Regions from separate parts of the Homo sapiens genome. Here region 1 is linked to region 2. A link means that fine-mapping ties the variant in region 2 to the expression of a gene that starts in the linked region. Tissue or cell type: whole blood. Region 2 holds a variant in brackets; the other region holds the start of a gene. All regions are shown on one strand. Distances are from middle to middle.

Region 1 (2,905 bases), 23 kb before region 2:
GGGTACTTCACATAGGAGGTAAGTAAATATTATCTCCCCATATGACAGATTTTAGAAAGGCTGAGGACCACCTGTGCAACGTTACACAGTTCAGGAAGTCAACAGTCAAACACTCACCTGTCTGACTTCAAAGCTACGCTGACTCTAGTTACCTATCCTTGGGTACTTCCCTTCTGGAAGGAAGCAGGAGATGAGTGAATCAAATAATACAGCCTTGTAACCTTGGGTAAATTATTATTGCCTTAATAGTAAGCAGAGACCAGGAGCCTAAGAAAGAATCTCATTAACATGGATGCAGGCTATCCTGCCAGGAAATCAGAATCATTTGAATATTAGGATTTCCTTTGGGAAACCATATGGGGAGGAGAAAAGACATCCGGATGCATGTGTCTGTGAAAGGGAAACTTGTGTCTTTCCCCTTGCTCTTGGGTTTTCATCTTCCAAGTTTGTTTATAGGCTAGCCACAACTCGAGGCTGGGTGAGCTGAACGGTCCCATCATTAGCGACACTCCTTCTAGGGGCACATTCGGGCAGCTCCTCTTCGGGTTCTGCCCCCACGGGTGTGCAACCAGGATTCCACAGGCTGGGGCTGGCCTGGATGCCTGGGAGGCAACAGAGGTCGAGTTTCTTCTTCTTTTAGGAAGTGCCTCGGACAGGGATGATGGACTAAAAATGTGTCTGGTTGGGAAAGTAAATAGATGCAAAGCAAATAAATAAAAATGCCCACAAGCAATTACAGGGAGGAAGTGACATTTTTATTTAAGTCACTTTTCTGATGGACAACAGGCCTGCTTAGCTGAGTGCCGTGGGAATGCTTCCGGGAGGGGGGCGGCTGCCCAGCAACTAGAGCTTCGTGATAAGAACAACGAACAAACAAAAAAGAGGACGCAAAGCCCACCCGGCAGTCATCCCAGGCTGGAAGTTGCCGTCTGTGTTTTCACTCTCCTCCCCACCCACCTACCCTGCCCCCCACCGCCCGCACGCAATTTCGGGCGTGGGGACCCTTTCCTGCCCCCGGCGCCCGGCCCGTGCTGCGCCTCCAGAGCGGAGCGTCCCGCAGCCCCGCGCTATCCCGGCGCCCGTACCGGGACCCGGGCGCGGAGCCTGGCGACGACGGGGGGCGCCCCAGGTGGGTCTCGGGTCCCCGCCCCGCGCGCCCGGGCCTGGGCCGGCCCCTGGGCGGCGTCACGGCGCGGCCGGGGAGGAGCGCGGGAGGAGGAGGAAGAGCGCGGAGGAGGCGGGCGCTGCGCGCCGGGGGAGGGTCGCCGCCGCCGCCGCCGCCGCCGCCGCCGCTGCCGCGGGGATCGTCAGGCCGGAGCCGCGCGGCCGAGCGGGCGGCGGGCGGAGGGGAGGGCTTGGCGGCCGGGAGGCTCGCGGCGCCCGGGCCGGCAGGGTCCGCCCGGGCCGGCAGCGTCCGCCCGGCGGCGGGAGGAGGGAGCGGCGCAGACAAAGAGCGGCGCCTGGGCGGGCGCAGCGCGGCCACCGCCCCGGGACCCGCGCCGCTGCCCTCCGGCTCCGCGGGCGGCCCACGGCGAGGTAAGCGCGGCTAGGCGGGCGTGGGGCGGGGGCCACAAACTTGGGGCCGTTGGGCGGAGTTGGGAGCGCGGCGGGGCTCGCGGGCCGGGGTGCGCCCGGGAAGGGGCCAGGAGAGCGGGTCCCCTCCGCGCCCCTCCGGTGCTCTCGGCCCTGCCGCGGCCTGGGCGCCCCCGACCGCGGACTGCCGGGCACCTCCCGGCTCTGCACCTTCCTGCCCGCCTTCCCATCCCTAACCCCCACCATCGGGGGCCGGCCCAGGGGCGGGGACGCCAGCCAAGGGCGCGGGCGAGGATCAGGGCAGGGGGCCCGGCTGCGGGGCCCGGGGACTGGAGACCCCCGGGTGCGCAGGCTGCGCCTGGCCTGCAGGCGGGCGGCCGGCACGGAGCTCGGGGCTAGCGTGGGACCGTGCGGTGGCCAGGGTCGCCAGGGCGCGTGTGCCGGGGAAGAATAGCCGCGGATCGCAGGGCCCCGGCGCAGGGACGGGGGAGGCCGCGATCGGCCGGGAGAACTTAACCGTGTTTATTACAACTATTTATGTTCGCGCACAAAGCTGCTGTCACATTGCATAAAGGAGGTCCTCGCTTCGGCGAAGGGAGCTTTTGTGCCCGGCTTCAGGCTCTGCGCCCTGCCCCAGATTTACAGGACTCTAACAGCCACCTGAATGAACCAAAGTTTCTCACAATCGCTCGGCTCTCTCGGTTTTTTTCAGGGCGATTTAATCACCGAGTGCTTTTGGAAAAATTTGATATGTGAGTTTTAAGGCATGGAGGGTAACTGCCTTATGAGCACAGTTAGCTTGGCATTGTGTGGAGGGGTTTAATTTGCAAAACGCTTTAATTTGTAGACAATGGGGATCTCTGTGAAGGTCTGCGGTGGATGCTAGGGGTCATTGGCTGGTGGACCCCAGGCACCTGACTTAAACTAGTATTGTAACAGCTTCAGGGACAAAGCCGAGCGTGCGTGGAGTCGGCCTTGGCCACTTCACACAATTCAGGTTGGCAGATTCCTCTTTATTTGGCTTTGTTTATTTTGCCAACAGGTTTAAGGCTGCTTCTGCCAAGTTTGCATCTGCATAATGGGATGAGCAGGCCCCAGTGTGGGCAGGAGGGGGCCTAAAATATCGCAAGGGCCAGCTCCGTCCCTCGACCCAGAAAGAAACAACCCTGAGAGGCCGGTGGGCGTGGCTTGCTGGGACCTACAGGTAGGGGAGTCCCTTCCTGGCCCAGGCGCAGTCCCCGCTTCTCGGAAGGGATTTTGTGTAGGAATGAAAGTGATTCAGGGTGTTTTTCATGCCTCTGTTTTAGATGTAGTTATCAAGTCTCAAAAGTGACTGAAAATGAAATTAACCTGGGCCGCTTTAACTTACCAA
Region 2 (2,905 bases):
TCTGCAGGTGAACATCGAACCAGCCCTGGCTCTGTCCCCAGACCTTTCCTTTACTCGGCTATCCCTCCATCTTGTGGGCATGCAGGATTTTCGTTCCCTCCAAACTATTTCCATCTGTAGTGAGTAGTGTTAGTTTGACTTACAAATTAATATTTAAGCCATCAAATTAGTTTAGTAACTGGCTGGAGGCTTCTGGCTCCGTCTTCCTGCTGCCTGTGCAGTGTTGGTGAAACTCAGGAGTGAAGAGAAGATGTGAAGAGACACGCTTGGGAGGAACTCTTCTCACCTGAGGACACCTGCCCAGGTGTGTCACACCTACTCTTATGGTCAGCTACTCGTATGGTCAGCCAGGTTCAGGCCCACACACACCAGTGCTGGGTTCCTGGTGCCTGCTTATCTCTCTGGAGCCAGGGAGGCTCCGACCTGGAAGCCTGGACCCCCGTCTGTGTTTATCTCATAGATACCATTCCATATTCCCAGGTATATGCTTGTAATGTTATTCATGTCACACATACATGTCATGTCATTGAACCAAATGCAATTTGCTGTTAATGTAATACTGCTCGTGACGTGGCCTACTTGGATGTCTGATATGAGCTTAGAAGCCTAACAGGAAGTTCACCTGCAAAATTGGACCCTCCCTATTCCCTTGTTTCCACAATAACCTAGTTAGTATTTTGTGAAAGGTGTTCTTTATAAGTGTTACATTCTGGTGCACTGATGATACAGTAATTGATTTAGGAATATCTGTTACTCTTTGTGGTTACAGTAGAGGTTGGCAAAGTGGCCCATGGACCAAATCCAGTTCACCTGTTTGGGTGTGAATACAGTTTTATTAGAACCCAGCTGGGCTCATTCATTTCCACAGCATCTGTGGCTGCCCCATGTTGCAACAGCAGAATTGAGGAATTGTGACTATGTGGCCCACAAAGCCTGAAATATCAGGCCTTTTCCAGAAGAAGAACCGCAGCCCCTAGTGTGCAGCAAGGAACAGAAATCAGGAGAGCTGCATTGGAGTCCCTGCTTTGTCCCTTTATTGGCGCGAGGTTTGAGGTTTCCGTGCCCGCACCTGGGAAAGGAGGAGGAGGATACCCATTGTCTCAGGGGATTGCTAGCATGAAATTGTGGGACATACTGGGTGGTTCCCAGCACTTAATATGCACTTAATAAATACTAATTCCTTCCCTCTCTATTACTCACATCCCCGGCTCTCATCCTTAAGTAGTTGCTGTCTTTCTACATGTGAAAAATTTGAGACAAAAAAATGGACATCAGTACTTGTGTTTTCAGAAATGAAGACATCTCAAGCAGCACTGTCCAGCAGAAATAGAACATAAGCTGCCAGTGTGTGCTAGATGTGTAACTTCACCTCTCCCAGTAACCACATGAAAAAGGCTACAAATTTTAAGTCTTCTGTAGTCCAACATAACCAAAATATTTCAACATATACTCAAATAATTGCTAATGCCATTCATTTGCTTTCTTTGCCTGTCTGTAGAGTCCAGTGTGTGTTTGCCCTCACAGCAAGACATAGCTGGACTCACCACCCCTTGAGTGCTCAGTGGCC[G/A]CGTGTGGCCGGTGGCTGTGTTATCAAACAGGTCTCTGATTCTCTGACACCACCTAGGTGTCCCCTAATTTGGTTCAGTTCTGACACTAGCTTTTCAGGGTTCGTGCCGGCCTCACAAGTTTTGAGGGCTAAGTCCCACAAGACCATCCCCATTTCCGTCACCAGTTGCATGTCCTAAGCCACCTGTACTTCTGATCAACTGGCTGTAAATTGGGGTTCCCATGACCTCACTTCAGGTTCCATAATTTGCCAGGACAACTCACAGAACTCAGAAAGGCACTTTGCTTATTGTTAGTGGTTCCTATAAAGCTAGGTTGTCCAACCCGCGGTCCAGGATGGCTTTGAATACGGCCCAACACAAATACTTAAACTTTCTTAAAACATGATGAGTTTTTTTTGAAATTTTCTTTTTCTCATCAGCTGCAGTTAATGTTAGTGTATTTTATGTATGGCCCAAGATGATTCTTACAGTGTGTGTGGCCCAGGGAAGCCAAAAGATTGGACACCCCTGTTTTAAAGGATGCAACTTAGGAACAGCCCAAAGGAAGTGACACATGGGACGAGGGGTGGGAGTCCCCATGCCCCCTGGGGGAGACACCTCCTAGTGCACCATCCCAATGAGTTCATGACGTGGAGGCTCCCCACATCCCATTTTTCAAGAGTTTTTGCAGCCCAGTCTCCTGGCCCCCCACCCCTCCCAGAGGTTGGGGTGTAGGGGGTGCAGAAAGTTCCCACTCTCTAATCACACGTTTTGTCTTTCTGGCAATGACCAGCTCCCCTCCAGGCTATCTAGGGGCACCCCCCAACCCCACTGGTCACCTCATTAGCATAAGCTCAGGTGTGGTGCACTGGGGCTCTCTATGAATCACTAAGGGCACTCTTGTTGCTCAGTAAATACCAAGGGCTTTAGGAGCTCTATGCCAGAAACCAGGGACCAAGACCAGAGATCTTTTTTATTATCCACCTGGGCAGCCCTGTCAGCCTGCTGCCCCGCCCCACCCCTCCCCTCCCCATCCCCAGCTGGCTGCGCCCTATTTAAAGCCCTCCTCTCAGTAAAACAGCTGATGCGTGCCTATTTTACATTCTTTTCTACCCTGGGTCTGACGAATCATGACTCTCACTGTGCTGGTAACTCCCCCGTTCTTGCTTCTCAGGAAGCAAATGTAGGAAAAATATAGTAACATTTCTAAGGAAGCTTAGAGATACAAAATGTTTAAATGTAGCACAAAAATTGTGACTCTACTTATAATAACGTACAGAAGAATAACTCCACAGTAGAAGTTAGGCATCCATGGCTGCAGGTTTTCTAAGAAATGGGACGTGTGGGTGACCTACTGC

What was found.
Region 1: it holds the start of NCK2, and the variant in region 2 is fine-mapped to the expression of NCK2 in whole blood (TOPMed, PIP above 0.99).

What each region holds. Positions count from the first base shown.
Region 1 is chr2:105,743,603-105,746,507 of GRCh38, forward strand. NCK2 (NCK adaptor protein 2) reads left to right here and starts at 1,310. Exons shown (of 5, transcript NM_003581.5): 1 at 1,310-1,536. RefSeq lists silencers at 961-1,280, 1,471-1,530, 1,641-2,030 and enhancers at 2,401-2,470, 2,571-2,620.
Region 2 is chr2:105,766,711-105,769,615 of GRCh38, forward strand. The region is part of intron 1 of NCK2 (NCK adaptor protein 2); the gene reads left to right. Among named protein-coding and RNA genes, the nearest start is that of NCK2, 23 kb to the left of the region's middle. RefSeq lists an enhancer at 2,523-2,905. The variant G/A (reference allele first, on the strand shown) is at 1,568.